2 linked regions of the Homo sapiens genome follow. The protein of the gene in region 2 interacts with the protein of the main gene of each other region in a biochemical or structural test. Each region holds a gene or a part of one and is shown on either strand. Other genes may lie near its edges.

What was found. Proteins that work in one complex are often made in the same cells at the same time.
Region 1: the proteins of GOLGA1 (region 2) and ARL1 form a complex in vitro, tested with the Homo sapiens proteins (one study listed by BioGRID).

What each region holds. Positions count from the first base shown.
Region 1 is NC_000012.12:101,397,773-101,404,813, reverse strand, and holds part of ARL1 (ADP-ribosylation factor-like protein 1), read left to right. Parts: intron 1-1,867; coding exon 1,868-1,949; intron 1,950-3,640; coding exon 3,641-3,752; intron 3,753-7,041. UniProt on the Homo sapiens protein: GTP-binding protein that recruits several effectors, such as golgins, arfaptins and Arf-GEFs to the trans-Golgi network, and modulates their functions at the Golgi complex.
Region 2 is NC_000009.12:124,877,738-124,882,087, reverse strand, and holds the end of GOLGA1 (golgin subfamily A member 1), read left to right. Parts: intron 1-133; coding exon 134-304; intron 305-830; coding exon 831-917; intron 918-1,477; coding exon 1,478-1,558; 3' UTR 1,559-3,813; downstream 3,814-4,350. UniProt on the Homo sapiens protein: Involved in vesicular trafficking at the Golgi apparatus level. Involved in endosome-to-Golgi trafficking. Mechanistically, captures transport vesicles arriving from endosomes via the protein TBC1D23.

The DNA.
Region 1 (7,041 bases), on a different chromosome or scaffold from region 2:
CAAAAATATTCTCCAACAGTCTTACTGACTATATGAGAATACTGTTGTTATTTATACTTTTTTCATTTGTTGCCTTGAATTTACTTAGAGAAGAGTAGTACATTTAAATTAAAGAGTTCATACAGTTTGCTCAAGATTTTTTAAATTATGCCTCTAATGTTAGTCTGTCACTCAGGGTATTTCTATATTGTTACTGTTTAAATTTATGGACTAAAACGAAAGAGGCTAGCCTCTAAGAAAGAAGAGCGTTTTGAACCCTGTAATGTCTGTTATTCCTTTTTGCTACCTTCAGTAAATTTTAGTGCCCTTAGTTTTTGCTTCTCAAAATCACCCATCTCTGTCTGGGCATCTCCTGCAGTGCACAGAGCAGCACAGTGGATAGTTTGGAGTTTCAGTGAGTGCTGCTTTACACCACACTCTTTGTTGAGACAGTGTCTTGCTTTTTTGCCCAGGCTGGAGTGCAGTGGCACATTCATAGCTCACTGCAGCGTCTACCTCTACCTCTACCTCCTGGGCTCAAGCGATCTTCCCACCTCAGCCTCCCAAAGTGTTGGGATTACAGGCATGAGCCACTGCACCCAGTCTACACCATTCTCTTGTCTTGCACATATAAACGATGTTTTTTACTGTTGGTGAACATTGTGATTACACTCCTACCTAATTCTAAGGGAGACATCATGAACTTGCATTTTAGTTTTTTGCTCAAATTTGTCATAGTATTGTTATTTTTTAATTGTAATAGACATACTTGCCAAATACTCAAAGGTATCACTTACCACTGCAGACTTAAATATAAAACAAAAGCTAATTGTCCAGTTATACCTGGAAGTTATTTTTTATTTATTTATTTTTTTGAGACAGAGTCTCACTCTATTGCCCAGGCTGAAGTGCAGTGGCAAGATCTCGGCTCACTGCAACCTGTGCCTCCCAGGTTCAAGCGATTCTCATGCATCAGCCTCCAGAGTGGCTGGGATTACAGGCATGTGCCACCACACCCGGCTAATTTTTGTATTTTTAGAAGAGATGGGGTTTCACAGTGTTGGCTAGGCTGGTCTCGAACTCCTGACCTCAGGTGATCCACCCGCCTTGGCCTCCCAAAGTGCTGGGATTACAGGTGTGAGCCACCGCACCCAGCCATGGAAGTTATTTTTTACCTATTTTTCACCTAAGAAGGATGGCAGAGAAAAGGGATGGGACACCTGCCCTTTGACCACCCAGCCATGACCTTATTACAAGTGAGTTCTGGAGGATGTCTGCAGATGGGCTGTGAGATTGAAAGCTGCAGCCATGGCTGTGTCCATGCTGTAGTTTAGAACTGAAGTTTAGCTTTTTTTCTTTTGGTCTGTTTATTTGCTGCCAGCCAAAATTCTGCTTTTTATAGTACATCCACAACTGTACTTTCTAAATACAGCTTTCGAACACTTTTAACTACTCTATTATGAGGGGAGTTTAATATAATAGGATTTCCATTGAGCTAAAAATTATGTTTTCCTTTTTATTTCTTTTTTAAATTCTTTTTTTAATTTATTTGAGCTAAAATTATATACTTTATTTGCAGAACTGCTGGCTTTTAAAAAATATCCTGAAGATGGTATTGATCTTGCTAATTGATGTTTTGTGCACACACCTGCACATGTGTGGGGGAGCAGAGCATACTATTTCGTCTTAAATGGTATAAAATCTCAACCAATAATGTGATTCAACAATTACCATTTCTTTTTAACTCGAATCCTAAGACAAATTATATATATATATATTTTAAACTCTAATAACAGTTACCATTAATTGCTGTAACTCAATTAGATAGGATATTTTGAAGGTGGAATGTATTAGTCTACACATACCACTGATTTGATTTCTCTTCCAGCCATTGGATTTAATGTAGAGACGGTGACGTACAAAAACCTTAAATTCCAAGTCTGGGATTTAGGAGGACAGACAAGTATCAGGTATGGTACAAAGACCAGGTTATTTGGTAGTATTTGACATTTATTGATTCTTTTAAGGGTTAAAATCAGTAAACCCGAATATGTGTTCTATTGTAATTTAAATGGAGCCACCTAGTTTAAAATGAGGTAAAATTGGGAACTATTTCCTTAGAGCATCCATTGAGTTAAAACTTAAGGAAGCCCAGTTTTCCAGATACCTGTTTAATGAAAATCTTTTCACGAAAATCTCAAGACCTTATTACTTCAGCTATTCTCAATTAGAAAGGACCCTCCATTTAGTTCTTGTCAGTCTCTCCTCTCTGAAACACATTGTTTTGGAATTCATTAAAGTACCTTGCAGGCATACCATTTAGGGCTAATATAAAAATAAATGCCATTGGCCGGGCATGGTAGCTCACGCCTGTAATCCCAGCACTTTGGGAGGCCGAGGTGGGCGGATCATCAGGTCAGGAGTTGGAGACCAGCCTGACCAACATGGTGAAACCTCGTCTCTACTAAAAATACAAAAATTAGCTGGGCATGGTGGTGCGTGCCTATAATTCCAGCTACCTGGGAGGCTGAGGCAGGAGAATTGCTTGTACCAGGACTTGGGAGCTGGAGGTTGCAGTGAGCTGAGATCGCGCAACTGCACTCCAGCCTGGGCTACAGAGCAAGACTCTGTCTCAAAAAAAATAAATGAATAAATAAAAAATAAATGCCTTCTGAAGTTCAGGTCTTCTGCTTAGCATTTTGGGCTTGACATGGCAACAGTGAATGTTTGATGACCGTCAGTAGTTGGTCACGATAGTACCATCTTAAAAGATTAGTAATGCATTCTCCAAACATTCTGACTTCTTTTAACTCATTTCTTGAATCACGTTTCTTTTTTTTTAAATTGTGCAGCCTCCCAAGCCAGAGTAGGCTCAGAGAGACTCCATTGAATCACTTTTGAGTTTATTTATAATTTTAGCCATTTCTACTGCTTGATGTCAGTGATTAATTTCATGACTGTTAAATAAAATCACGTTTAAAAAGTTTATTCCTCTTAAGGGGTGCCTAGTTAAAGATTTGTTTAAGAAGATGTAATGATCAGGTCTGTGTACAACTTTTCTATCAGTATATTTAGTGATTTCATAGATTATAAATAAATTTTGTCAGCCTGAAGTCTGAATGAATTCATTTGGAAACTCCCTGGTCCTGTGAGTCAATGTTTATCAACATTCTTTTTTTTTTTTTTTTTTTTTTTTTTGAGACAGAGTTTCACTCTTGTTGCCCAGGCTGGAGTGCAATGGCACCATCTCAGCTCACTGGAACCTCTGCCTTCCTGGTTGAAGTGATTTTCCTGCCTCAGCCTCCCGAGTAGCTGGGATTACAGGCACCTGCCACCATGTCCAGCTAATTTTGTATTTTTAGTAGAGATGGGGTTTCTCCATGTTGGTCAGGCTGGTCTCGAACTCCCGACCTCAGTTGATCTGCCCTCCTCAGCCTCCTAAAATGCTGGGATTACAGATGTGAGCCACCGTGCCCAGCCAATGTTTATCAACATTCTTTTGACTCCATCACATCTGAGGGATATGGTACATATATCCACCAGAAACAGTGAATCATTAAGGCATTGATTCTAACATGTGTGGGACAGAATTGGCAATTGATATGTCAGTTTCTTCCTTAAAACAATAACAATATGTTCTCCCCTTTTAAATTTTCTCTAGGCCATACTGGAGATGTTACTATTCAAACACAGATGCAGTCATTTATGTAGTAGACAGTTGTGACCGAGACCGAATTGGCATTTCCAAATCAGAGTTAGTTGCCATGTTGGAGGTAAGAAAACGTAACCACTTTAAAATGTGGGGCAGTCATTTACATATTATTACATTGAAGAATAATTAAAAAGAATGCAGGGGTTGTTCCCTCCATCCTTTTAAAATTATTTTCTTTTATGGAAATGATTTTCTATTCCAAAAATACAGTTGAGGAGGGTTGGAGACAAAACAACAACAAAAATTAACCTCGTAACTTCCTCTTCAAGCCAGATTGCTTGATTTTCCAGGAGGTTCAGAAGAGCTCACTTAAACAAAAGCATCTATTCTAAGTCACTTCTTTGATGTGACTTTTAAAATATGTCTTTTTATTTTTAGCTGTTTTAGAAGGATTCAAGTTCAGAGAAATATGTATTTCTGGGTTACTGGCACAATGCTGGCCTCACGTTTATCGTTTTTTATCCTTCCCAGTGTTTACAGTGCTTTTGACCTTCTTTCTGTTCTTTGGACACGAGCTTGCACACCTGGCTCAGGGCCTTTTGCACTTGCTGATCCGTCTGCTTGGAATACTATTCTCCAGCATCTTTGCATGGCTGCCTTCCTGACGTGTTTCTTCCCACATCTCTTCCCCAGAAAGAAGTCTTATTTATTCTCTAATCCTTTACCCTTCTTTATTCTTTATACCGATATTGTTTCTTTTTTTTCTTTTTCTTTTTCTTTTTTTTTTCTTTTTTTTTGTAGAGACGGGGTCTACCTATGGTGCCCAGGCTGGTCCCAAACTCCTGTCCTCAAGTGATCCTCCTGCCTCGGCCTCCTAGTGTTGGGATTACAGGTGTGAGCCATTGCACCCCACTTACTGTTTTTTTACATTATTTTTAAATGTATTTGTTGGCTGGGCGTGGTGGCTCACGCCTGTAATCCCAGCACTTTGGGAGGCCGAGGCGGGCAGGTCACCAGAGATCATCAGGAGTTTGAGACCAGCCTGTCCAACATGGTGAAACCTCATCTCTACTGAAAATACAAGAAAATTAACCGGGCATGGTGGTGTGTGCCTGTAGTCCCAGCTACTTGGGAGGCTAAGGCAGGAGAGTCACTTGAACCCAGGAGGCAGAGGTTGCAGTGAGCCGAGATCGTGCCCCTGCACTACAGCCTGGGTGACAAGAGTGAGACTCTGTCTCAAAAAATAAAAATTAAAAAAAAATATATTTGTTTACTTATGTATCTCTCCCTCTAAAATGTAAGTTCTTTGAGTTTACCCTGATAGGAGGAACAATGTATAGTACTTAATTAAGAATTCAATACATCTTATTCACTGAAGTTAATAAGATCATATATTGGCTAACTGATCAAATTCAGAGGATGCATTAAATAATCCATTTTTAAAAAATGAAAAAATAATCAAATGTACTATGATAATAATAAAATTGCCCTTGCTCTGGAAAATTAGATGGATAAGTTTCTTTCTCTTGTCAAAAACTGGATTCTGAATTGTTTAATCAAGGGATGTTTAAATATAAGTTCTAGGCCAGTTGATACCTAGGTAAAAGCATCCTCAGACGAGGGGACTATGTACTTTTGAATTCTTTTTTTTTTTTTTTTTTTTTTTTTTTTTTAGACAGAGTCTTGCTCTGTCGCCCAGGCTGGAGTGAGTGGCGTGATCTCCACTCACTACAATTTTCGCCTCCTGGGTTCAAGCGATTCTTCTGTTTCAGCCTTCTGAGTAGCTGGGACTATAGGCTTCTGCCACCACACCCGGCTTATTTTTGTATTTGTAGCAGAGATGGGGTTTCACCATGTTGGCCAGGCTGGTCTCGAACTCCTGACCTCAGCAGTTTGCCCGCCTCCTGATCTGCCAGCCTTGGCCTCCCAAAGTACTGGGATTACAGGCATGAGCCACCGCGCTCAGCCCAGGACTTTTGATTTCTTGAACTACTGACTTAATGGCTTCCAAGTTATAAATTGCAGACTTAATAGTTTTAAACATTTGGTTAATTTTTTTTTTTTTACATCATAGCATTATATTTATTATAAGAGCTTCTTAGACCAAATTTAAATGTAAGGATAAGGTTTAATTGCCTTGGGTATAATAGGTTTTTTAAAGAACAGTTTTATTTAGGTATAATTCACATGATATAGTGTATTTTTATCATATAAAGTATTGCTTAAAAGGAATGGATTATTGACTTCAGTTTACAATTTTTGAGTTGTGCAGGATTGTTGTTACTTGCAGTGTTAGGATTTGACTTATAAAGTCTTACAGAGAAAGAAGTAAAAGTTGGATTCTTTCTTTAGGAAGTCACTTTTAATTCATCAATAAATATCATGTTATGTTAAGTATGGGCCAAGTACGAGTCAGGACTGTTAATGTTAAAACATATAGACACAGGCCAGGTGTGGTGGCTCACGCCTGTAATCCCAGCACTTTGGGAGGCCGAGGCAGGTGGATCACTTCAGGTCAGGAGTTTGAGACCAGCCTGGCCACCCATATCTACTAAAAATACAAAAATGAGCCGGGTGTAGTAGCGCACGCCTGTAATCCCAGCTACACGGGAGGCTGAGGCAGGAGAGTCACTTGAACCCAGGAGGCGGAGGTTGCAGTGAGCTGAGATAGTGCCACTGCACTCCAACCTGAGTGATGGAGTGAGACTCCATCTCAAAACAAACAAACAAAAAATATATAGTATAGACACAAAAGCAGTTTAGGTTTCAACTTTTTTTTTTTTTTTGAGACGGAGTTTCACTATTGTTGCCCAGGCTGGAGTGCAGTGGTGCAATCTCGGCTCACTGCAGCCTCCACCTGCCAGGTTCAAGCAATTCTCCTGCCTCAGCCTCCTGAGTAGCTGGGATTGCAAGCGCACACCACCACACCCGGCTAATTTTTGTAATTTTAGTAGAGACGGGGTTTCACCATGTTGGTCAGGCTGGTCTTGAACTCCTGACCTGGTGATCCACCCACCTCAGCCTCCCAAAGTGCTGGGATTACAGATGTGAGCCACCGTGCCTGGCCTTTCAACTTTCCTATACACAAAAATGAATTCTAAATGGGTAAATAATTAAATGTAAAAAATGAAAATTATAAGAACATATAAGGAATTCAAAAGATGAGATTTAATTATATTAATGTAAACAAAACTCCCCCAAAGCTCAGATATGGCAAATATAAACAAGATTAAGATAAGAAACCAGGCCTAACCAGAAGCCAATGACTAAGGATTAGTGATCTGAATCATAGCAAGATCTTTTGCAAAATGAGCAAAAGGCAATTCGTAGGGGAAAAACATTGCTAATAACATTTGCATTTGTTTTTAAAGAGACAGGGTCAGCAGGGCGCGGTGGCTTATGCCTGTAAT
Region 2 (4,350 bases):
GTGCTTCCTTCCCAGGTGGGGCCCTTTTTGCCCTACGATAGTGATCATAGTTTGGACCAGGTGAACCTCCCGTGTGATTTTTTCCACCTGTCTCAGAGGGTTCGGTGTAGCATCTTTCCCACTGGTTTTTCAGAAAATCAGACCCGATAATGAGCTCTTCGAAGTCCGGGAGAAACCTGGACCTGAGATGGCAAACATGGCGCCTTCCGTCACGAATAACACTGACCTGACAGATGCCCGCGAGATCAACTTTGAGTACCTTAAACATGTGGTTTTAAAATTCATGTCTTGTCGCGAATCCGAGGTAAAGGGCTTTTGAGGTGTCTTTTGGGTATTGAGGCCCCGCCCTACAGTCTGTCCTGCAGGGACCCCTGCCCAGCCCCTTTCTCTCTTTTCCTCGTACATCCTGGTTTGACGCCCTTGTGGTCACCCAGTCATTTCTCCTGCTGGCGTTGGCCTGCGGAGTGAGCGGCTGGCGGGAGAGGCCGTGCAGGAACTGGCTCCTGGTGGGAGACATAGGCTCCACTTCTAAATCCTGGCCTGGGTGCTGAGGCCAGAGGCCGGAAGCCGGGAACGGAATCCACCCATCGCTCCTGGGTCCTGCCAAAGGGTAGGGTAGCTGCTGGGGCAGTTCCCTTAAGCCTGCCAGGCCCCCGAGGATGCAGGGGAAGAAAGAACCTATCATTGCTGCCAAACTTCAGAGTGCCAGAGCGTCACCCACCACCTGGTCCTGCTAACCAAAGCAAGCAGGAAATGCCACGTAGCTCCCCCGACCCCACCCCGCCTCACCTTCACCAAGGCCTATGGCAGCAAAACTTACTGTGTTTCAGGCTTTTCATCTTATAAAAGCTGTGTCAGTGTTGCTGAACTTTTCCCAAGAGGAGGAGAACATGCTCAAGGAAACTCTGGAATATAAGGTAGGGTTCTCTGGTCTACTGTTCCAGCTTCCAAGATACGTTGTCAGTTATCCCAGCAGTAGCAGTGTAAGACCCCTTAGACCCACACCCGAGTGTAGGCACCAGCACAGCTGCATGATCAGCTTGGCTGCTTTTGGATGAACTTGATCCAAGCACTTTTTAGCGATGACATCCTTTGTGCCCAAATGTCTGTGCTGTACTTGACCAACAGGCCACGTATTTTTCAAAGCATTTTCATTGATAGCGCTTTATCGAGAGCCCCAGGTCTGGCTCGGCACTCAAATTCCAAAAGCGTCTGCATAAATGCTCTAATAGGAAAAAATACCTGCAGTTCCACTACCTTGTTCCTGTCAACTCAGTGTTTTTCTCTCATTTCCCTCCTGTACTGAGCACGGGCCTGCAGACTGGTTACTGGCACCATCTTCTTGCTCTGCTCAGAGCCAGAGGCAGGATGTGTGGGGGGCAGGAGTGACAGGCTCACGGGAGGGGAGGGGCGGTTCAGTTTCCCTGGCACCAAGTCCTGATTTGCATCTCAGAAGCCTTTTCTGTTTCAAATGCAGATGTCATGGTTTGGGTCCAAACCAGCTCCCAAGGGCAGCATCCGGCCGTCTATCTCAAACCCTCGGATACCATGGTCCTAGAGGGGACTACCCAAGGATGGAGCTCCGTGGGTTGACACTTTTTCTGTGAAAAGAACACTGACACACCAGTCTGGGTGGGTTTTTAATCACTGTAACTGCAGTATTTTGTACAAGTGTCTAAACATTGTTTACAAGACTAAGGCCCACTTCCCTGCAGGCTGACCTGAACCTCAGGGGGTAGCTGATCCTGTCATTCTGGTCACCAAACAGGAGGGTCCTGGCACTACCCAGATTTCCACAGTGCTGCTAATATCCCAGCTCCAGCCAGCACCCCATCTGCACCTGAATCCTCTAACTTCACGGTAGCACTTACAGCTGAAGCCATCAGCATCTGGCAGGCACACCTGAGTCACCATGTAGCGCTGCTACTGGAGGTAGAGACGGCCCTTTGAGATGGTGCCCAGCAGGCCAAACCCACCTGCCTCTGCCAGGAACAGCCAACTCCATGGGAACTCTATGGGAGTGGCTTTTAAAAATTCAGATGAGTTAGAAGCTTTTTATCCCTTCCTCTCAAGAAAATATTCTTTCACCCTGTCTCTCAAACCACCTAGAACTTTAGAGGATCCATCTTTAAGGGTCGGTGTGGATGAATGAGAAAATGCACCTTTCTGACAGTATCTCCACTTTACTTAAGAAAACTAGCAAATATATGAAAAGACCCTTAGTACCAAATACACTCAATTGCCTTTTTAATGAATGTACTTGTCTTGGATAGGTTGCTGGTAAACCATTTTAAACTATTTTTTATAGCTGAAGTTCTTCACTACTATAAACATGTCTTCTGTACTATAAAATCCATTTAACTGGTGTTCTTAAAATCAGAGCGTCCAGAGGAAATTCTTCCTAAAACTAGGATTCCTGTTCCTTTGTCTTCTCACTCGCACTCTGGCACTGCTCCCTCTGAAGTGCAGTGGGATCTCGTGTGCTTTGTCTTGATTCTGTGCTGCGCTGCCGCTGGGCGATGCAGACCACCTGTCTTCTACTGAAGGACAGTCCGCTGTCTCCAGTGGGGGCAGCAGCTGTCCCCCAGCCTCGATGGAGACACTGGGGCAGTCTGCCTTGTCTGTGGAGCTGCTCTCTCTCCCTCATCCCACCCCAAATACTTAAAATGACACTACACCCAGACGGCGCCCAGCTGGCTGCAGCACTTGTAGCATGCACATGACTCTGGTAGTAACCAACAAAAACTTGTTTTATGGATTCCTCGTTTACTGAGGAAAGGGAACATGCTGGTTCTGGAAAAGCCACAATATTGAATCTAAAAGGAAACCGTTTATTGTTTGATGAAAGTTTCACTGGTTAAATAAAAAACTAAATTAATAACTGGAGCCTCTAAATTTATTATCCATTATCCAGTGATGGAAAGTTGTATTTCTCAATCATGCTTAGGGCCAAAATAGGTATATAAAATGTGTCACAGAAAAACACGCATTTGCAACGTTAACCTAACGAAATTTCCATGAAGAACCAAGTCAGGGCAGCATCTCCTTAGTCCCAGCTCAGGCTCTCTGCCTTCCAGAGGCCGCTTCTCCAGTGACTAACCTCCTCCTCTGGCTCCTCCTTGCAGACAGTTATCCCTTGTTTAGAACACGAATTTCCATTTACCTGGTGGGAACACGAAACAGGAGTCTCTTCTGTTCTGCAAGTTTGATGGGTAAGAGGTAGCCTTTTTTCAAAGTAGGATTTCCTTTTTCAACTGTTCCAGGAAAGAATCTCTAAGACTGGGTAGCTCACAGCCAGCCAAAGGCAGCTACATTTCCACAGAAGCCCATCCGCTGCCTCCGTGGCTTCTCCAGCCATTGAACTGGTCCCACACGCACCCCAGGCCCCACTCCTCGGCAGTTTCAGGTGTAGCTGTGGGGCCCGTTCCTAGGTCTGTACTCACTTTAGGGAGGCTTCACTGACTAGGCTTTCCTCCTGCATGTTGAATTTCCTTCAGCTTTAAGAGGAAGAGTGGAATAAATATTCTAAGTGATTTAATGCACTTTGACTTGTATAAAACTTTCTGTGTTAGCGACGGTATCTATAGCCCTTTATACGAGCGATGGATCTTGAGCTCTCCTTCCATGTTGTAAATAGGGATTGTATTCTTGAAAACTGCTGTAGCAAATTCATCTGTGGTGCAATACACTTTTTGATTAAAGCTCTTCAATCCAGATGCAACTACAATGGATTTTACTAGTTTGGTGTGTCAGTATTTCTTTGACTCATTAAATCTGGTATTTTGTGTCTCATATTTAACACTCCAAGGCCAACCTCAAGGGCTAGAGAATGTTTGTCTTTCTTTCAGAAAGAACCTTCCCAGACTGGATTTGGGTGAATAAATATACGTAATTTAATGAAGCCAACAGCCCCATTCTACCCCCCCCAAGAATTGCAGTGGTTCTGAAGAGGGACTGAGGAGGGGAGAGCTGTGGAGGGGAGGACTGTGTCACTTTGGTCAAAGTCTGTATCCAAAGGCTGTATGACCCAGAGGAGCTTCTGGAGTGTGAATGGGGCCCTAACCTTTAACAGAATGCAAGCTGCAGTCACATGTGCTGAAAAGGAAAGAAAAGCATTTTTGCCCTTCAGAGAAGCTCTGTTATTGGTTATGGGGAACCAAATTATACCATCTATTTGCTGATTGATTGCTCCCCATTTCTGACGTTTAGTTCTTTAAAGAAAGCTTGTCCATGCAGCAGTGATTCTGCAGCACAGCCAACCCAGCATCAGGAGACGTGACCAGGCACATCTGAGGCCCCACCCTCAAAAGATTCCAAGTGCAATCCCACAAACTGAAGACTTTTAAAGCC